2 linked regions of the Homo sapiens genome follow. The protein of the gene in region 1 interacts with the protein of each later gene in a pairwise test. Each region holds a gene or a part of one and is shown in the gene's direction. Other genes may lie near its edges. The genes, in order: EPB41 and TJP2.

The links.
Region 2: the proteins of EPB41 (region 1) and TJP2 interact in a two-hybrid assay, tested with the Homo sapiens proteins (one study listed by BioGRID).

What each region holds. Positions count from the first base shown.
Region 1 is NC_000001.11:29,110,873-29,121,893, forward strand, and holds the end of EPB41 (protein 4.1), read left to right. Parts: intron 1-1,495; coding exon 1,496-1,576; intron 1,577-4,826; coding exon 4,827-4,925; 3' UTR 4,926-4,931; intron 4,932-5,946; 3' UTR 5,947-9,169; downstream 9,170-11,021. Other genes in the region: TMEM200B (transmembrane protein 200B), read right to left, coding at 10,033-10,956. UniProt on the Homo sapiens protein: Protein 4.1 is a major structural element of the erythrocyte membrane skeleton. It plays a key role in regulating membrane physical properties of mechanical stability and deformability by stabilizing spectrin-actin interaction. Recruits DLG1 to membranes.
Region 2 is NC_000009.12:69,174,919-69,185,966, forward strand, and holds part of TJP2 (tight junction protein 2), read left to right. Parts: intron 1-3,124; exon of another isoform or gene 3,125-3,211; intron 3,212-10,168; exon of another isoform or gene 10,169-10,286; intron 10,287-11,048. UniProt on the Homo sapiens protein: Plays a role in tight junctions and adherens junctions. Acts as a positive regulator of RANKL-induced osteoclast differentiation, potentially via mediating downstream transcriptional activity.

The sequences.
Region 1 (11,021 bases):
TTTTCCTCTTGAAAATGATCATGGTGGCTCATGCCTGTAATCCCAACACTTTGGGAGGCCAAGGCGGGCGGATCACCTGAGATCAGGAGTTCAAGACCAGCCTGGCCAACATGGCGAAACCCCATCTCTACTAAAAAAATAAAAATTAGCCGAGCATGGTGGCACACGCCTATAGTCCCAGCTACTCGGGAGGCTTAGGCAGGAGAATCACTTGAACCCAAGAGGCGGAGGTTGCAGTGAGCTAAGATCATGCCACTGCACTCTAGCCTGAGCAACAGAGCAAGACTCCATCTCAAAAAAAAAAAAAGAAAAAGAAAATGATCAATTAAAATGTATAGCATCAGTATCCAGTCTCTAAAACAGAAATGTATGAGAGAAGAGCACAGAAAGTCCTATTTTGTTTACTTGCTAGATTTCTGTGGTATTCAGGAGGAAGAAAAAGGAGAAAGTAAATACAGAATTGTGACTTTCTGTTTAGCTTAATAAAGATTTTAGTAATCCAGGCTGGGCGCGGTGGCTCACACCTGTAATCCCAGCACTTTGGGAGGCCGGGGCGGGCAGATCACGAGGTCAAGAGGTCGAGACCATCCTAGCTGACAAAAAACCCCGTCTCTACTAAAAATAGAAAAAATTAGCCGGGCGTGGTGGCAGGCGCCTGTAGTCCCAGCTACTTGGGAGGCTGAGGCAGGAGAATGGTGTGAACCCAGTAGACAGAGCTTGCAGTGAGCCGAGATCGCACCACTGTACTCCAGCCTGGGCGACAGAGCAAGACTCCGTCTCAAAAAATAAATAAATAAATAAATAAAAAAGATTGTAGTAATCAAGGCTGGATGTGGTGGCTCACGCCTGTAATCCAAGCACTTTGGGAGGCTGAGGTGGGTGGATCACAAGGTCAGGAGTTTGAGACCAGCCTGGCCAACATAGTGAAACCCCATCTCTACTAAAAATCCAAAAATTAGCTGGGCATGGTGGTGCGTGCCTGTAGTCCCATCTACTCAGGAGGCTGAGGCAGGAGAATTGCTTGAACCCGGGAGGCAGAGGTTGCAGTGAGCCGAGATCACACCACTACACTCCAGCCTGGACAACAGAGCGAGACTCTGTCTCAAAAAAAAAAAAAAACAAAGATTTTAATAATCCAGGGGAGTAGAAGTGTACTCTACAAGGGAGTAGAAGTAGCAGGTCTGGTTGAGATTTTGGACAAGTAGGTTAGAAAGCTGTCCTTTGCAGTACCCAGCAGTAGATTAAAATTTGGAGTGGAGCTTTCGGAATAATCTTTGCTATTTTTCTTTTTTTGTTTGTTTGTTTGTTAATAGAGACGAGGTCTCATTATGTTGCCCAGGCTGGTCTCAAACTCCTGGCCGCAAGCATTCCTCCTATCTCAGCCTCCCAAAGTGTTGAGATTACAAGTGTGAACCACTAAACCTGGCCTCTTTTTCTTTTTTTTTAATTCTTGTTATATCGCTGATCTCATATGACATCTTCTCTTTGGTTCCAGACTGTAAAAGGTGGGATTTCAGAGACACGTATTGAAAAGAGAATTGTGATCACAGGAGATGCTGATATTGACCATGATCAGGTGGGAATGTTGAAGAGATCTGGGCCTGGGAGGGGTCCCTGGGCAGGAAGACCGATGAATACAGGAGTTTGTTTGCCATCTTCATCTGCAAAAAGCCTCTTTGGCCACTCTAGCTCTTAATTGAGAAGAAAGACAAAGACAATCAAAGTAAGAGGCCTGTGGGATGGAGGCCACAGATTGAGGAGCCAGGAAATGTAATGGAAAGAACATGAGCTTTGGATTCCAAGACTTGATTCAATTGCTGGTTCTTAATATATTCTAGCTGTTAACTCTCTGGGCCTCCATTTTGCATCTGTAAGATGAAGATGATAGTATCTCCCTCTCAGGGTTGTTGTGAGAATCAGGTGAAATACTGGATGAACAGCTGGTGGCACATGGTGAGCTCAGTTAAATGGAGCTATTGTTATTCCGAAGGTAAAGGTACCTGAACCCATGCTAGACAACATCAAAACAAAGGGAAGCATGCCCCTACCCTTAGAGAGCTGTAACAGCCGAGAAGACACGAGCGGGAGCATAGTATGGTGGACAAGACACCAGCAGACTCGAAACTTGTTTTCTGCCCTACATCTCTAACTTGCTGTGTGACCTTGGGCAAATCACTTTTCCGCTGATTTTTTTCTCCTTTCCTAAAAGAGAGTGGGTTGATCTAGATAATTTCTGGGCCTGAGTGCTAAAATTCTATATTTTTATGTTAATTGGGTGCTAATTGTGTGCTGCAAGCAATTAGCAAATAATAAGGTCAGGATTAATGTTCCCAGTTCTCTGCTGGGTGAGGTTAGAACAGTAAAGCTGCAGAGAAGAGGGGGTGGAAGAGATTGCATGCAAATGCTTCTGGAATCGTTGACTGGGTTGCTGGAGCAATAATTCTGTGGCCTTTTTATGCTGATATGCTGAGTGCCTTTAAAAAAAGAAAAACTGAGCTACAGTGCTGGCAGTTCCCTTGGAGGCAGGGTTGAGAGTTACAGCTGAGAATAGTGGACACAGGGTCCCAGAAACAAGGCTGCAAAGCCTAAATATCTTGCAGCCTGTTGGCCCAGCTCAGTGGGTCCCGCTGCTTTAGAAGCCTGCACCCACCCACTCAGTCTGGTGTGATCTGAGCCCCTGCTACGTGCTCAGTCTGCACTAGACAGCAAAAGCAATGCGGTGAAAGGTGTTTGAGGTTTGGAGTGAGACAGACTTGGGCTGAATCCTGACTCTGCGACCTAATTGGTTATATGTCCTTGAGCAACTTATATTACCAACCTGAGCTCTAGTTTTACCATCTGTAAAATAAGGATGATCACAGGTTTCTTCCAGGGTCATAAGGGCCAAACACACTTGGTAGCTCAGAGAGATGCTCCAGTGTCCCTCAGGTTTTCTAGTTACTGAGAGTGCATGGAAGGGGTAAGCTATGGTACACTCTGGCTGGCGAGGGAGGCACTTTAAGAACTGTTAAGGAGAAGCAGTGTGGAGCAGCAGGTTTCATAGAGAGGTGGGCGGAGGCAGAGTCACAAAGAGAAGACTTGAGCTGGGCCTGAGGTGTGAGCAGATGGGTTGGGCAAACAGGATCAGGGAGGATGGTCAGGGGCCCACAGAGGTGGTAGTTCTAAGAATGCCATTCATAGAGCCAGGAGACCAGAAGAGGGTTTTCCTTCTTCCCTTGCCCCTTCTAGAGATGGTTCTTAAGAGCCAGGTGAGTAGTCAGCTGGTCATTTCTAGCTGAGTCCTTTTCCATAGGGGAGCCTGCAAATTCAGAGACTGCAGCCCAAAGAGGATGGTGTTTTTGCTCTTTTGACTTTCCCTCTGCTCTCTTTAGCTTTTCTAAAGTAATCAAAGCTCCTCCAGATCCTCAAACAGGGACCCCCTCAGAAACTAAACAACAGTGTGGTAAAGAGGAAAGTCTGATCGACTTGAGTTAAAATCCCTATTGCACGGCTGGGTGCGTTGGCTCACGCCTATAATCCCAGTACTTTGGGAGGCCGAGCAAGGTGGATCACCTGAGGTCAGGAGTTCGAGACCAGCCTGGCCAAGGTGGCAAAACACTGTCTCTACTAAAAATACAAAAATTAGCCAGACGTGGTCACGGACACCTGTAACCCCAGCTACTTGGGAGGCTGAGGCACAAGAATCGCTTGAACCCAGGAGGCAGAGGTTTCAGTGAGCCAAGATCACACCACTGCACTCCAGCCTGGGCAGTGAGACTCCGTCTAAAAAAAAAAAAAAAAAAAAAAAAGTCCCTGTTTCACTACCTACTAGCTATGAAACAGTAAGCTCTTTACTGAAATTCAGTTTCCTCACCTATAAAATGCAAAAAATTACATTACCTTAATGCACTAAGTTGTCATGTTTAAGTAAAAAGTAATGATAATAGTTATTATCTTAATAACAATATAGTTATTAATAAATTATAACTTAATAGAGTTTAAGTAATAAGTAATGTACTTAGGCTAGTGCATGGCATATAACAGTCCCTTGTCCTCTTCCTTCCTTTCTTCTACTTTGGCCAAGGACATCTCTTCCTTTTTCTTGCACACTTCTTTACTTTCCTCTCCCGTCCTGAACTTGCCACTTACCCATGCTGAACACAGATGTTGTTTTGTCCTTTAGATTCACATCTTGAGTGAATCCTCTCAGACCCTCCAGGTATAATGATAGATAATAGATAGGTATAATAGATAATATAGGCCAGGTGCAGTGGCTCACACCTGTCATCCCAGCACTTTGGGAGGCCAAGCCAGGTGGATCATTTGAGGTCAGGAGTTCGAGACCAGTCTGGCCAACATGGTGAAACCCCATCTCTACAAAAAATACAAAAATTAGCTGGGCGTAGTGGTACACACCCGTAATCCCAGCTACTCAGGAGGCTGAAGCAGGAGAACTGCTTGAACCTGGGAGGCGGAGGTTGCAGTGAGCCGAGATTGCACCATTGCACTCCAGCCTGGGTGACGGAGCGAGACTCCATCTCAACAACAACAAAAAATAAAAAAAAAATAAAGGATCATATAACAGATACAGCTATGACCCCCGAAGTCCCTCTCCAGTTCCTAGAAGACAGCGCTAACCTTCCCTGTCCCTGTGTTATCAGTCCAGAAGCCTCCCTATGCAGGATAGGGTGGGTAAGGTAATTATCAGCTTGGCTTAGCCTAAAGCTGCCCTGGTACTGCAGACAGGAGTATTGGATCTGTCAGAACATCAGAGAAATGATGACCACTGCCTTCCTTCGCCATCAGGCTATTTTCTGCCTCATTGCCCTTGTTTCTGTCTTTTGTAGGTCCTTGTACAAGCCATCAAGGAGGCAAAGGAGCAGCACCCAGACATGTCAGTGACCAAGGTGGTCGTCCACCAGGAGACCGAGATTGCTGATGAGTGAGCTCAGGTACTGGGCGTTCCTGCTGGGGCTGAGGGTGCCCACAGTCCCAGCCTGAGAGGGCTCTGGATGGGACCCTCGGACACACTGGGAGCCCATCCCCACAAAGAGGTGTTCACCCTGGGACTTGATAAAGGCAGACGAGAGGCTGATGTGGGAGATATAGGAAATTAAGTATTTGGCTCCAACTAAAGCAGCCTGTAGCAGTGCCAGCATTATTGGGTAAGAGGAGGGACCCAAACTTGGATATAAGCCCCCAGCTACCCTCTGAGTCTTCATGCATCCTGCTGGAGATCCACTTCACCTTCCCCCTCTCTTCTCTCTACTGCTCTGCTTGCTGCTGTCACAGGTCTCTCTTTTTTTTTTTTTTTTTTTGAGACGGAGTCTCATTCTGTCACCCAGGCTTGAGTGCAGTGGCATGATCTTAGCTCACTGCAACCTCCGCCTCCCGGGTTCAAGGAATTCTGCCTTAGCCTCCCAAGAAGGTGGGACTACAGGCATGTGCCACCATGCCCAGCTAATTTTTGTATTTTTAGTAGAGACGGGGTTTCACCATGTTGGCCAGGTTAGTCTCGAACTCCTGACCTCAAATGATCCACCTGGCTTGGCCTCCCAAAGTGCTGGGCTGGGATTACAGGCATGAGCCACCGCGCCTGGCCAGTCACAGGTATCTTTGAGCCAGAACCTGGGAAAGCCAGAGGAGAAAAAACCAAGAAGAGCAGGATCAGGCTGTCTGGAGATGGGTGGGCATGCAGAGCAGGGAGGTAATGGCTGAAGCTCTGAGACCAGAGTAGAGAGCTGGGAGCAGGGAAGCTGCTTTTTGGGAACCAGGGATCCAGATAAATTCATGCCTAAAAGTAATTTTAAAAAGACTTGAAGAAGCCACCAATCTCACTAGGTGGGACCAGGCCCTGTAAACCTGCTCACATCCCCATTGTCACTGATGGCCACAGGAACTTGGCAATGGGACTAGGAAGCTTTTTCCTTTGCAGGATTTTAAATTTTGCTTCTTTGTTTTCTCTAGGAACTAACCTACCCCAACTCTGCCCTTCTCCCATCCAAGAGAAACCAGCAAAATGATAAAGAAGCTAACCTGCCATAGTCAGACTTCAGACTTTCAAGATTATTCTAAATCACCAGAAAATTAATTTCAGTTTCTATTGGGAGTTTATACCAAGAGATTCTTCTAGATCTCATTGATCCTTTTGAAGAGCTTTTTCTATATTAGGATATCAGAATTGTTCAACTTTTCACTCTATAGACTGTTTTAAGAGTTTTGGGGTTTTTTTAATTGGGTGGTTTGTAACCCCTTCAGCCTAGCCTCTCTGCCCATTTATTTCCAACCCCAACAGACACTGACAGGGTCCATGGAATTCTTCGGGAAATCCTCCAAGGACTCTTGTCAGCTGTGTTGGAAGCCAAAGCCAGCTTAGTGGGACTTCCGCGTCTCTCCCTAGTCTTATCCCCTTTGGATGATGGCAGAAACTTCATGAACCAGCCCTTTCTCAGAGCCAGTGATGTGAGTGTATCAGAATGCCAGGGAGGGCACCAGCCCTGATCCACAGACCTCGGAAAGATGCCCCTGTTCCTTTGTTGCGGGTGGTTTTGGTAAGGCAGAGCCCTCTGCTGAGAATGTAGTATTGTTTTTCCCCTCTCCCTCCTGCTTTCTTTTTGGAGCTTCTTTGGGTCAAAGACATGGAAGTTGCTTCAGATATCTGATACTGTGAATGTTTGAACATATCCGTGGCCTTCACCTCTCCAGCTACCCTTTTACCTCATCAGAAGCAGTGGCTCAGCTAAGTGCTCCCCCTAGCTCCCATCTCAGGAGACCAAATCTCACAGAAAAATAGGCACTTTGGGCCAAAAGCTCTAATGGAACATTTTTAGTGGTGATTTGGGGAAGGAAAGTTAATGAGGTTTTTAAAATAAGGTTTTCTAGTTTTGAGAGTGTGCACTTCACACAGGGGAATGGGGTTACTTCTGTCTGATCCTGGGCCTTTCTTTCATCCCAAATGACAAGGAATGTGGCTCAGAGAAGGGTTTTTCTTTTTTGACCTTTCTTCTCTCAACAGGAACCTGCCTGAGGACACCCTTCTAGAGCAAGGAATTGACTTTTAGGAGCCGTTCTCCCCACAAGACACCACATGACAAGGGGTATAAGCCCCAGCCCTGCTCATTCCCACTCACCAGCTGAGGTCTGTCAGGTTTTGAAGGCTTGATTTTGTGGTGGGTTTGGGGCTTAGTTTTCCTTTTTTTCATTTTGATTTTTGAAAGTGAAGATGATGCCCTAATTCCTGGTAAGGATTTGGGGCATAGTTTTTTGTTTTTTTGAGACGGAGTTTCGCTCTTGTTGCCCAAGCTGGAGTGCAGTGGCGCGATCTCGGCTCACTGCAACCTCCGCCTCCTGGGTTCAAGCAGTTCTCTTGCCTCAGCCTCCCAAGTAGCTGGGATGACAGGCGCACACCACCACGCCCAGCAAATTTTTTGTATTTTTAGTAGAAACGGGATTTCACCTTGTTAGGCTGGTCTCGAACTCCTGACCTCAGGTGATCCACCCACCTTGGCCTCCCAAAGTGCTGGGATTACAGGTGTGAGCCACCACGCCCGGCCGATTTGGGGCATTTTTATTTAACAGAACTTCTCTAACCTTCCAACTGCTTCCCACAAACACATTGGCCTCAAGGCTCCTTAGAATCCCAGTTCCAGCTTCCTAAAATAGACAGTGGGTATCGGGCAGCAGTCACTGGGGCTCAAGGGCAGTGAGCAAGAGAAATGTCTAAAGCTGCTTCTCCCAACACCGTCCAAAGTCTCCACTGCCTGAGTTTTGTTTCGGCTGGTTTGAACTCATTTCGGGTGTGTGCATTTTTCTTTTGGTACCCATGTGAGACATGAACAACAGGAGGGAGGGAAAGAGCCCAGGTGGGACGTGGGACAGGCTTAGGGGAAAGAGCTTGTCCTATCTCAGGAACAAAATTATAGGCTGTGGGCAGAGGGTCTGAAAGGTGGGCTTTGGGGTAGTGCCCAAGCCTGGTCGTGTTGCCAGGAGTGGTGACAAGAAATGCAGCTTACATCAAACGAACATGTAGTGCATGCCCACTGCCTGATGGCCAGATGGCCTGTAGGAAGAGCTACCAGGGCTTCCAGACCTGTGGAACGAAGAGGATGGGGAAAAGGCAGAGGGCACTGAGTGTCCCTTTAAAAACTAACCCACTGAATATTCCGTGTGATCTAGAACAGTGTGGCAGCTTTCACAGCACAGGACCGTTCATCGGGGGCCTAAACGTTTCCCTCAGCTCTGTCACCAACTCACTTCTCTCGGCTTCGTTGTCTGTAAATTGGATGAAAAGAGCTCTAATGCCTTTCAGGCTCTTAGAAGCCATAGATTTGGACAAGCCCAGCAAGATGGGTGTCCTTCCAGGCCTCTTCCCCTTTCCTCCATCTCTGGCAACAGTTCTTGGGGTTTGGCAATTGTTTGGATTTTTTTTCTTTCTGCAGTTGTGTGTATGTGTGTTTGTGTGAAGAAAAACAGACTCTGTCCAGGTAGAAATGGTGAGGAGGGGGAAGAGAATTACATTTCCAGGGTCAGAAACTTGGCAACAGTTTTCCTAGAGTGACTCAGACACACCACAGTAACAACTCTCGCTGCAATTTTATTTTAATTTGAGAAATAAAGATTTCCTCCAAGCCACATGAGGACTCTGGCACCCACCCACAAAGCAAGACCTGTATTTATAAGCCGAGGGCTCAGGGAGCCTAACTGCGGGACCCGTCAGGGCCCCGTGACCCATCCCCGTCCCCACCCCCCCCTCCACCGCTGGGCCCATCAGTGTGTGTTGGGGGGATGCTTGGCAGCTGGGGGTGAGGAGACAACAAACCTCGGGAACTGGAGCCAGAGCTGCGGCCTGACTGACGCCTTTTGATGCTCACGGGAAATTTCTGCCCAGGATCTCAGCCCCAGGCTGGTTGTTTCTACAAATCTCTCTCAAATGTATTATTTTGGTGACAAAAATGAAGGAGCTTTGTAAATTTTTTTTAAAATTATGAATCATATCAAGTAGTTGTTTACATTTCTTGAAAAAATAGGAACTCGGGCAGCAGAATCAGATTGGCAGAATCTTTAGACTACACAGGCAATAATCAAGTCTGCTGTTTTGGCCTTTCGTAGTAGAAGTGGTTGTAGTGTTTAGATATCTGTTTGGTCTTGCTTCTTGTATTGCATTTTTTTCAATAAACAACAACAAAAAGAACTCTCTCTGTGAGGATTGATCCACTTTTAAATTTCTCTTCTACCAGCAACTTGGGAAAAATTAAATATGGGTGGGGGAGACCTAAACTCAAGTCATTTTCTAAAGTAAGTTACCCACATTGACCAAAATGCAGCTTCAACGTTGAGTAAAGGGATTTCTGAGAGCTGGCCAATGCCTTTTGCCAGCTGCAGTGAGATTCTGCAGCATAGGCCACGATAAAGGAAGGAGAGAAGGGGCTTCTCAGACTTATTTGCAGAAGGGCCCAGAACTCAGTATGAAGGCATTGGCAGTAGTGTAGCTCTAGAGGGATATACCCCAGATGGCTGAGGGAAGAAAGGGATTGAGGTGGTAGGAGTTCAAGGCTCAGTCCCCGTCCCAGATGGCAGTGGAGAGTCTCATCCCGTGGTCCATCTTCCCAGAGGCCCCACACTCCATCACCAGTGCCGCCTTGGAGGGAGCCTGCCCCAGCCTGTAACATCCCAACCTACCTCCCAGTCTTAGGGGCCCTTGCCCACCACTTTCTTGGGTTTGCCAAGACACTGGGTACATCTCCCAGTCACCCTGGCCTGGACCTCCAGCCCTGTTAGGGCTAAGGCCACTTACAGAGGCTGAAGAAATTCCTGAGGCGAGTCCTCCACACCCCACAGTGAAACGCACCCTCTCCAGCTCACTGAGCCCTGGTGCAGCTGGCATTTCTCTGCCCGCATGCAGGTCAGGATGCCCTTCACAGCTGCTGTGGTCAGAGCATCCATCCCCAGCCTGGGATGTGACTGAAACATCTATTAGACGTTGGGACTCCTGGTCCTTTGGTCCTATTAGCATGGTCCATGCTGCAGCCTCAGAGCAGGCTGTCTCCCCTCTCTTCAGACCCGGGCCCCCAAGTCCCCTCCTCCTCCCAATTTGGCATAGCCCCCAAGACTGAGGCGGTCCAGCCGTGGCCAGCTTCGGTGAGCACAGTCCCGAGCTGCTGGGGCCCCAAGGAGGAGCTCCCCAAGGCCCAGATCCAGAGACTTGGAATGTTCAATGCAGGAGCCAGACGGCTGCACGGTGATGATCACATGGCCAGTCTGCGTCCGTGGACCCCAGGGTGGGGGCAGCCCGGGGCCCTTCAGCGGGTAGCTGTTGAGCAAGGCAGGTAACCCCAAGCGAGGATTAGCGGGCTCTGAACGCAGACTCCGCACTGACGGGACGGGTGAAGTACCCCGACGCGGGGACGGGTCCCAGATTTCTGGCTCTGCGCAGCCTACGGCTCGGGGACTCCTAGGGCCGGGGCTGGGAAGGAGGGCGCAGTCCCAGCCCGGGCCGTCGGGGGGCCGGAGCGCCTGGGCCCGCAGCACCCCCTGGCGGAGCCGTCGCGTCTCCAAGTCTCGGTTCTCATACAGCAGTGTGTTGGCGCAGATGAACACGAACAGGCCGACGCCCATGATCACCGGCCCGAGGAGCCGCAGCCGCTCGTGCGGGCCGTGAGCCCGGCCCCCGCCGCGACCCTCGCGTCGCAGCTCGCTCATCTGGGGCGAGCTGGCATTGGCGGCCCGGGACCCTGGGGCCCCGGCCCGGTGCGGCCAGTAGCCGGCCACTGCAATGCCCATACCCACCAGTACCACGAGCGCCCCCAGCGCCGCGAACGCCCCCGACGGCGAGCGCAGCCGCAGCCGCGCCCGCACCCGCAGAGGCTCGGGCGGGGAGCGCGGGCGCCGGCGGCGGCCCAGGCGGCGGCCCAAGCGAGAGACGCGGCCCTCGGGGCTCCTCCGCACCTCCCCGCATTCTTCGGGGCTCCCGGCCGTCATCTCGCCGTCGTCTGGGCGCTCTGCGGAGAGAAGATGGGAGGCAAGGACTGGACCGACGGGCCTCT
Region 2 (11,048 bases), on another chromosome or scaffold:
TTTTTTTTTTCCAGTAGGGAATGGGGATGGAGGTTTGGAAGGACCCACAAAAGAGGAGTGTGATGAATGCTTTGTATTCTAGTACTAGCCTACCTGTCACCAGTTCTTTTTATGTCTTCATTTGTCAAGTTTCTGCTTTTACACGGTAGTTTAAGTTATAAATAATCAGGGATTTCTACCACAGGGTTTTAACATTCTTGAAATGTGGACAAACTTGGGAGTGAGTGCTCCCGCGCTTAGTAATGGAATACAGCCTCCCACCTCTATTTCAGCTTCAGTTCTTAGGCTAGGCTGCTTTTCTGGCAGCTGTCTGGCCTGAGTAATGATGGTTGTGGTTTCCCTGAAGTTCCCAGCGGAGAGTCATCCCATGATAGAAACTGCCTTGCGCTTCTCACTCACGCTCTCAGCCCGGGGAATCCCAGCGGGGAGGAGGGAGGGAGGTCGTTTTCTTCAGCTCCCCAGGTGGTCTGTGCTGGGTGTGCTGACGGTCCTTTTGGGAAAACAGGTCCACCTTTGCCAGCGTAATTCAGAAAGAGATGTAATTTTCTGAGAGCACACACCTGGGCAGGAGATCGCTTGAAGTGAGAAATTCGTAGTGGTAAATGTATTTGTAGCAAAGTACCACTGCATATCCTGCTTGAGAGGATGAAATTTGATTATTTAGTAAGTTTTCATGAACAACTCCACTTCAGTGTGGGGATTACGCAGATGAGCAAGAGCGTGGCTCTGTCACACAGTCCCGTTGGGAAAGCCTGCAACTCATTAAGAATCCGATGAGTGCCATTTAGAAATGTGGACAGGGTACTGGAGCTTCCTCATTGTGGGGAGATGGCAGAAGCGGAGGTGCTTTACTAAAGCACCGGTGGCTTTTGAGGTGTTTCTTGTGTTTTTTTCAGAACTACTTCTGCAGTGGGGCCACTTTATTTCTTTTCAGAGCTACTTATGCAGATTGATGAAGGGGAACTTTCCCCTCTGAAATGCTGCTGTAACTTTTTCAGTACCATCCAGATATTATAATACTGAATGAGCCCCTACTCCTGCCAGTCACTGTGGGGGATACAAAGATGAACAAGATTCAATTTCTGCATTTAGGGGTCTAGTGGACCTGAAACTGTTAGACTTTACTCTGCAATCTGTGTCGGGATTCCTGAGACTGAGGGAGGGAATGTATGATGCCGATGCACACTCTGCAATACAGAAATTTAGCAAAGAGTGGGATTGGTCCTATATGCATTCCCTTCAGGGGATTCTTGCTGGGAATAAAGGGCATTTGAACAGTTACCTCACCCGAGCAAGCCACTATAGAAAATGGGGCCAGTAATGCGCCCACCTCACCGGGCTGAGTGAGGTCTGAATGAAATGACAGAGAGTACAAGGCATGTGGTGGATGCTACGTAAATGGTGGTAGCTAGTAATAGGAACAAAACGGGTGCTGAAAACTCTTAAGTGTTGGGTCCTGGGTTGATAAGGGAGGTGAGATCTAAAGATACAAGTAGGAGGTGCCAGGTAGGTGTCCAGGAAAAAACTGAAAGAGTTGTTGTTCACACTCTGTTAAAAGGCCTTGAAGGCCATAACGAAGCTTTGGGTGGGGGGAAGTCAGAAATCCCTCATGTATTAAATGACTTGACTTTCCCTACAAAAGAAGCGAACCAGTTTCCCAGTAAACATCCCACCCCATAACTATTTTTGAGGCATTCATAGGCTTAAGACCAATGAATTTTTACATCACCCCCGGGGGAATTGCATTTGCAATGACTTCTGCCTACATTTAACTTTTGATCTAGTTCTTTGTACACTGACAAAAGTTCACAGCCAACCATTTCTCTTCAGGACAAGTGTGAGAACTTTCTGCATACTGCTGAAGGCAAGGGAGATTTTGAGTTTAGCAAGGTTTTCTCTCCTTAAGAAGGTTATCTTTTTACGAGACACAAGTTATTGAAACTAGGCGGGGCCACTTTAGTCCTGTGTACAATAATATGTGTAGTAATATAAATAGTAATTTAAAAAGTCATGCAGACTTGGTTGGGGAGAGGCATGAAGTTTGGGTGTGGTGGGGGCGGGGTGAAGCGGTAGAAGGGTTCGCAATCACTGCTGAAACTTTCAACATATTCTACCAACAATATGAGCCACCAGGGAATTCCTTGCCTCATCTCTAGAACGAATCCCATTAAGCAGTTGTGGCTACAGATGAATTTATCTAGGTTGAGAGCTGATTCCCAATAACATGCCTCATTGATTTGACTCTAAGCAGTAATCAGGGGCCCAACAGTTGTTGGACCAACCAGCCTTGATTTTCCAGAGAAGGTGATTTGGTATATGGTAGTGTCTGAGGGTGAGATTGCCCCAGATGGGAGTGGAGGGAAGCAGAACAGTTTTCTCTGGTGTTTTACTGAGTTTTTGTCTTGATCCTAAATCCAAGGGTTAGGGTCAGAAACACAGACTCAGAGGTTAGATTTAACACCCATTTAGTGGGTTAAACACATCAATGGTTATGTGAACTTTGTTAAGGTTTAAAAAGCTATTTAGGGCCTGTTTCTCCCTCATAGGAATTTTTGCAATCAGCCTTTTTAGTAGATGCCCATATAGAAAGTGAATTTGGGAGGGTCTAAGGTGGTATTACTATTAAACTTTTTGAAAAGGCTGTGTGATAGCAATGGAAAAAAAAATTCAGGCATGGAAATCCAATATGCAGTATTGCAGTAGCTAGTTTTAATTTTATTTTTGTTTTTTTGGTTTTTTTTTTGGAGATGGAGTCTTGCTCTGTTGCCCAGGCTGAAGTGTGGTGGTGCGGTCTTGGCTCACTGCAACCTCTGCCTCCCGGGTTCAAGCGGTTCTCTTGCTTCAGCCTTCAAAGTAGCTGGGATTACAGAAGTGAGCCACCGTGCCCGGCCACTAGTTTTAATTTTGGATGGTACCTAGGAAAGCAGTTGAGCTAGTATGCTGCATACATTGTAGTGTGAGAGGCAGAGTTCCGAGTTGGAGAGTGTCTGCTTCCACTTTTTCCATTTGATTAGGAAAAGCACTTCTTAGAACTGGGTGACTGACAGCTAGAGCCCCAGAAGACCTGCACAAGCTGGGGCAATGGCTACCCATAACAGTGACGGCTCCATTCTGTTTTTTAAAGGGATTGGTGTCTCTATCATCCAGCTGGCCATTAAACAACCAAAGCTTCATCATCCTAGATAACCTGTGAGCTCTCAGAGGAGACAGAGTAAGGACTATCATACCCCCAAAATACCTAATCATTTAATAAAGCATTTTCTCTACCTTTTATGCTATCCCAAAACAGTGCTTTCCAAAGTCTGGTATACAGACAGACTTACAGGTGGTGCAGAGAGATACATATTCTATTTTTCAATTATGATGCATGAATATTATATGTTAGGAATAAAAACAGAAAACCAGCTACCACATCCATTTATTTCATGGCTAGATTGCTTAGAATGAGGCAAAAATAAATATTAAGTAAAGCAGTGAGTTTGCTTTAAGAAAAATTATCAACTCTGGGAATGAGTAATATGAGGCTAAGGCAAAAATGGTAAAGCTAGCCCTTGACATCTGAGGTGTGCATAATACTGCTTAAAATATGAGTGTGGTGCTTACTTATAGAGAGCCTGGTATACCTTGACCACGCCTTCAAGAAAGTCAAACACAGAATGGCCCAGAATAGCCAGGAAAGTTGAATTTGATGGACTTTCTGTCTTAAGCGTGTGCATCCTGCTCTTATCCACTCAGATCTCTTAGATGTGGTTGCAGACAGTGTATTTGTAGAGCTAGCTGTTTGTTTTAACGTCTGGCCCAATTCTCATTCCTTTCTCTGCTTCCACAAGCCATTCTGCAGTTTTTAAAGGTCTGTTGGTATGATATTTTTGATATGATAGAGTGATAGGGGAGGAAGTATTTTGACACTGATGAAGGACATCACTGTATTATCAAGTGACTCTTGCTCATGATTCATTGCCGAAGAATGTGGACAGCCAAACAGCCTCACCTGTAAATGCATTTAATTTCTCAAAGTCTTTCAGAAGAATGCCAACTGGATGAGTTTTTTTTTCTTATTTTTTTTTTAATATGAAGCTTGTATTGGTCTGTAAAATAGGCTTTAACAAGGATTTTCGTAGGAACAGGAAGCCTTGAGGTAGAAAACAAGTATCCCTGCTTTGACCTAGAGAGATGCATGCTCATGGCAGGCGAATGAATCAAGGAGAAGAGAAAATACTGTTTCAGTAGACTCTCTAGTGATGTGTGTGTTCACACCATTTATGAGAAATCCTAAGCTTTCAATTAGTAACTTGTACTTTAGTCATTTAAAATCAGCACAGATGTTTGTTTAGTGCCTCTGCCAGATGGTTAAAGTTAAATCAGGTTTTTTAACCTGAAAAACGTAATGTAGCTTTCCTTAACCATTTACACACCATTGTATATTGCAGACCATAGTCAGATACATTTTGTTATAATGAATGTTTATTTTACCTTTTAGCTCAATTAGAATATCAGTGGTTATGGTTTCTATTTTGTTTTCCTACAGTTACTGTATGGGGGTGCAGTAACAGCGGTGGTGGTGAAAGTAAGTTACTTTTTTCTTTTTCTTTCTTTTTTTTTTTTTTTGAGACGGAGTCTCCCTCTGTCGCCCAGGCTGGAATGCAGTGGTGCGATCTCGGCTCACTGCAAGCTCCACCTCCCGGGTTCACGCCATTCAGCCTCCCCAGTAGCTGGGACTACAGGCGCCCGCCACCACGCCCGGCTAATTTTTTGTATTTTTAGTAGAGACGGGGTTTCACCATGTTAGCCAGGATGGTCTTGATCTCCTGACCTCGTGATCCACCCGCCTCGGCCTCCCAAAGTGCTGGGATTAGAGGTGTGAGCCACCGCGCCCGGCTGAAAGTGAATCTCTTAATGGATCTTCCATGAATCAAATATTTGTGTTTTAGTAAGTTAGGCTGACCAAAAGATTTCGAATCATACCTTTAATCATGGCAAGGATCTTATGTCACATTCTTGAGTACACATGTTCACTAAATTTTACCTATATGTGTATGTGAACATGGACTTCAGAATTAATTAGTGTGGTAATTATTATTTCTATTGTAGACTTTAATCAGCCATATTAAATATATGCATTATGTTCACAGAGAAAACATGGTATCATCTTTGGAAACTTTACAGTATGCTCTATATTATAGATACCCTATATAACTATGGTACTAAACACACGAGTTAGTGACAAGTCAGGCATTTGGAGGGAATGTTTGTAACCCATTGTGGGAGAGAGTTATTAGAATAGTTATTCTTACTGGTAGGTAACAGTTATGGCTGTAATGAATAGAATGTGACTAAAATCCAGTTATGCCTTTGCCATCGTATTAAAAGCTTTGGTGGAGACGTGAGAACATTGCAGATACTTTGGATTTTGTCACTTGAGTTGAAGGTAAACAGAGAAAACAGTACTTTCTAGTCATCAGTAGGAATTAACTCTTCCAGGACATGTAGCTTCAAGGACCTTCTAGGTTCTTCTGAGGGGGAAATAATGTTCCACTTGGGGCCATTTTTTTCCATTTGTTGAGAGTCATTTGTTTTCAGAGTATTAAAGGAAGTGTTCCGAGTTCTAGGTTGTGTTTCTTTGATGCCTACTAAAGCTGAGCACACCTGAGACCCTGGGTGGAGCTCTACAATGGGAATAGGAGTAAGTAATGTAGGCTTCGAGAGACAATCATTCTGCTCTCAGTCCTTGGAAGACTGTTCCTAGGTATATATGGCAAAGCAGATGAAATTATTTGAGGGAATTAATTAGCAAAACTAAACATTTCTGTTTTTGAAAGGAATGAATCATTTGGAAGGAACTTCCTGGTGAGCTCAGTTTTAGCAGCCTGGTTTCTGCGTTACCCTTCTGCAGTCTGGCTGAATCAATTGTGTTCTTGCCTGTGATTGGTGAGGATGCACATGCTAGTATTTATTCTAGCCCTTATCACTTCCCATCAGCCCTGAGCCCCTCCCTGGTCTGAGTCATCTTGGTAACCCCAGAAGCTAACAGAGCACCAACACATCCACTAAACGTTGGACTGACTTGATTTGGGGCAGGCTTGTTGTATAAGCTAGTAGGAATAAGAGACTAATTGAGAAATTAGGACAGTGGATTCCTGACATTTATATAGTGAGTAGATGATCGTTTGTTAGAATTGCGAATTTCATCCAGAGAATTTTGTCCAAAAAAAATTATAGAATTTCATCTAGACCATTTTTGTAATGGCATGGAAGCAGCATTAGCTGCACCACTGATTAGCTGGGTGGCTTTTGCTGTCTTGTGACTCTAGTTTGCAATTTCTTTTTTTTTTTTTTTTTTTTTTTTTTGAGGTGGAGTCTAGCCCTATCGCTGAGGCTGGAGTGCAATGGCCCGATCTCAGCTCACTGCAACGTCTGCCTCCTAGGTTCAAGCGATTCTCCTGCCTCAGCCTCCCAAGTAGCTGGGATTACAGGCACACGCCACCACACCCTGCTAATTTTTTGTATCTTTGGTAGAGACGGGGCTTCACCATGTTGGCCAGGCTGGTCTCGAACTCCTGAGCTCGTGATCCGCCTGCCTTGGCCTCCCGAAGTGCTGGGATTATAGGCATGAGCCACCTCGCCTGGCCTAGTTCTCAGTTTCTTTATCAGAAAATGAGTAGTTACAGTTGATCATCTCAAAGTCTTTTGTGCTTAAGATTCTGAAGGTTTTGAAGTTTGAGTATAAAGCCTAGAGAACATTCTAAATTATTTCCATTGGTTCTTCTCATCTTAAAATGTTTTTGTGCTCCTTAAACTACGTTTGTGTTTGCTTGCTTGCTTTCTTTTTTTTTTAGAGATCCAGTGGATTATCTCTGAAAAGCATTTTTTAAAAAGACAGAGTCCAAGAGTGGCTGGTAGTTGTTTTGCTCATAAAGTGATGGAAAGATCTATTATTCAGTTGCAGCTTAAATTATGTACCAGCACCACGTGTGCTGGATTCTCTTCCTTACTTTGCAGCTTAAGCCAGCAACTGCAACCATCTTGCAGAGCTTCTTGAGAATCCTTCTTCCTCTTCCTCTTCCTCTCCACCCCCATGGACTTCTCCCCGGGCCTCATTGCCTGTGACATACGCTTGGAAGGAGGGGCAGGCCTGCAGCTGGGAGCCCTTTCTGATTTGTTCTTCACAAATGTGTTGAAGATGAGCCTACTGGTCACTGCTGCAAAAAACCACATTGTTCACTGGTGTAAAATCACTGCTGTCATCTGAGTTTCAGCATAACTTCAGGCATGTTGGAGTTTTTCAACGTCACCTCAGGCAGAGCACTTTGCCTTCCTTGGGCTGGTCTGTTTAGTGTCTGGGTGAGTTTTAAGAGAGGAGAGACATTGTGGCATCTTAGACACTCACTGAAATTTTCCAGAAATGGAGCTGGAAACATTTGTGCGTTTCCTTCTGGTGTTATTGTTAAAGCCTAAAAACAAGGGCAAGTGGCAACACATTGAAATGAAGAAGCCCCAAGTTTGCAACACATTGAAAGGAAGAGGCCCCAAGTTCGTTTTGAGCCTAAATTGAATTTTAATCAAAGGTCTGAGAGAAATATTTAGTCTACTTATACTATTTAAGTGCACAGTTTGGCAGATGACTTTGGGCAGTGAAGGATCTGGAAGAGGCAGGAAAGGTAGACTCAATCTGCCAGACTTAGAGCTAAAAAAATTTGCCTGGTATGTTTCCATGAAGAAAATTTTCCTGTAGAAGCAGTGGCACGACCTCTGTTACAAGTCTGCTTATTGATAATGAAGCTTTTTCTGTGTTATCAATTTCGTTGAATTTATATGTATGTATATACATATACACACACACAAATCTCAAGTAGAGAGCTTGATGAATTTCTTTTTTTTTTTTTTTTTGAGATGGAGTTTCACTCTTGTTGCCCAGGCTGAAGTGCAGTGGTGCCATCTCGGCTCACCACAACCTGTGCCCTCCAGGTTCAAGCAATTCTCCGGCCTCAGCCTCCCGAGTAGTTGGGACTACAGGTGCGCACCACCATGCCCGGCTAATTTTGTATTTTTTTTTTTTTTAGTAGAGACAAGGTTTCTTCATGTTGGTCAGGCTGATCTCGAACTCCTGATCTCGGGTGATCCACCTGCCTCAGCCTCCCAAAGTGCTGGAATTACAGGCGTGAGCCATTGTGCCTGGCCAGGGAATTTTATTTATTGTGGTAAAGTACACATAACATTAAGTGTACCATTTTAACCATTTTAAAGTATAAAATTCAATGGCATTTAATACACTCACAGTATTTTGTAAACACCATCACTCTCTAGTTCCAGAGGTAGGTGAATTTTTACATGAATGTATTCACCTGCATGATTACCACCTAGATTAAAAACTAGAATTTTCCATCACTCTGGAAGGTTCTCTCTTGCCACTTTTCCAATGATTACCACACCTACCTAAAAGAGAACTTCTCTTCTGACTTCTCTCACCGTGGAACACTTTTGCTTGAACTTGGGAGAGGACCCATATATAAATAAAATCAACATTTTATGTCTGTCATCTTTCACTCAACCTAACCTCTGTGAAATTCATCCGTATTTGTTGCGTGAGATTCAGTAGTTCTTTTTTGCCACTGAGTCGTATTCCATTTATATGCATCTGTCACATTTGGCTTATCTCTTCTGTTGATAGGTATTTGGGTTATTTTCAGTGTTTTTGCTATTATGAATAAAGCTGCCATGAAAAGCACCTACACATTGCCTTGTGGACATGTACACCCATTTCTCTTGTGTGAATTCCTAGGACCATAGGTTAGGGATTTTTTAAAAAACTTATTTTAGATTAAAAAAAATATTTTTTGAGACAGTCTCACTCTGTCACCCAGGCTGGAGTGCAGTGGCATGATCTCAGCTCATTGCGACCTGTGCCTCCCAGGTTCAAGTGATTCTCCTGCTTCAGCCTCCCAAGTAGCTGGGATTACAGGCATGCGCCACTACACCTAGCTAATTTTTGTATTTTTAGTAGAGACAGGTTTCTCTTCAACTCCTGAGTTCAAGCAGTCTGCCCACCTTGGCCTCCCAAAATGCTGGGATTATAAATGCGAGCCACCACGCCCAGCCAGGTTACAGATGTTTAACTTTGATTCTTTACCTCTGAAGTCAAATAAACCTGGGTGTGAATTCTTTTGTCCTGCCACTTGCTTGCTTGACTTTGAGCAATTTACCTTTTTCTCATGTTCAGTTTTCTCAGTTGTAAAATAGGCCTACCCTATCAGTCATGGTTCAGTCAAGAAGACATGTCATTCTAGCTATTTCAAGGAGAAGGGGATTCAATACAGAGTATTAGTTGCCTTCAGGACAAAGAAAAGGCGAGATGCGCAAAAAATGGAAGCCCACCGCTGGCTTTCTGATTTGCCGCAAAAAAAGTTAGAAAGCTGCTGCCACCCAGAGAAGACTCAGAAGGTCTTGCTTGACCTTCCACCTTCTCAGCATCTCCAGCCTTGAGGCTGGTGAAAGGGCAGGGAATCTGGACATGCTGTAAAGCTCATGTCTGAGGAATCCAACTTTTGCCTGCTACTGCTGCTGTCTGTAGGAAGAAGAAAAACAAATGGCTTCTGCTTTCCTTCATCCTTCCAAATCTCAAACACGTGTACCTCGCTGGTAGAACCCTGTTGGCAAGAGAGATGGGGGATCTCTGGTAGAAACAGAAACTCAGTGCCAGCAAAGAAGAAATGGCATAGATGCCACCTGGGGTTGCTTTGAGGTGCTCAGTAAATGGCAGTGGTTATAATTTATTATTTTCATCATTCCTCAAGAACTGCTGCTGCAGTTCAGACTGATTTCTCTCTCTCTCTCTTCTTTTTTTTTTTTTTTTTTGAGACGGGCTTGCTCTGTCACCCAGGCTGGAGTGCAGTGGTGCCGTCACAGCTCACTGCAGCCTCGACTTCCCTGGCTCAAGTGATCCTCTCACCTCAGCCTCCGATTAGCTGTAACCACGGGCATGCGCCACCATACCTGGCTAATTTTTAAATATTTTGTAGAGATGAGGTCTGTCTATGTTGCCCAGGTGGGCCTTGAACTCCTGGGCTCAGGCGATCCTCCTACCTCGGCCTCCCGAAGTGCTAGGATTATAGGCGTGAGTCACCACGCTTGGGCAGCAGACTGATTTCTTTTTTTTTTTTTTTTGAGACAGAGTCTTGCTGTGTTGCCCAGGCTGGAATGCAGTGGTGCAATCTCAGCTTACTGCGACCTCTGCCTCCCGGATTCAAGCAATTCTCCTGCCTCAGCCTCCCGAGTAGCTGGGATTACAGGTGGGTGCCACCACACCCGGCTAATTTTTGTATTTTTAGTAGAGGCAGGGTTTCACCATGTTGGCCAGGCTGGTCTCGAACTCCTGACCTCAGGTGATCTGCCTGCCTTGGCCTCCCAAAGTGCTGGGATTATAGGCGTGAGCCACCGTGTCCGACCCAGACTGATTTCTGTAACGGATGTTCATTCTTTTCACTTTATAGTCACATGGATGCCACTGTAAGAGCTCCGTGTCACATAAGGTGTTGTTTTTCTGGAAGGGCCTTCCAGATTCTGTATCTATTGCTCTGTGATTCTAGGTACTTTTCTAAAGGTATAAGCTTGAGAAATTAGTTTTCAAGTCTGTAAGTTAATGTAGAGCTGAAAGGTGACTTAATTCTAAGAGTTGCTGCTTTAATGTATAATTTTATGGAACCTAATGAGTGTTTTCTTTTTAAAGTCATTCCACTTTATTATTAATAAAATAAAAGGTAATATATAAATCTGGCTGATAGATGGGGTTACTTTTTTCCCTGTCTTTAGCTTCCTTTGTGTTCTGATAAATGAGATGGAAGATTTTTATCATATTTTGTACCTCAAATCTCTCGCGGAGGGAACACTGTAGTCTACCAAAACAGCTGGCAGAAGTGTCTGTCCTATTATAAGTTTATTTTATGAAACATGAGCTATAATGTAGTCCTTTTTTTTTTTTTTTCTTTTTTTGGAGACGGAGTCTCGGTTGCGCCTGGCTAATTTTTTGTATTTTTTAGTAGAGATGGGGTTTC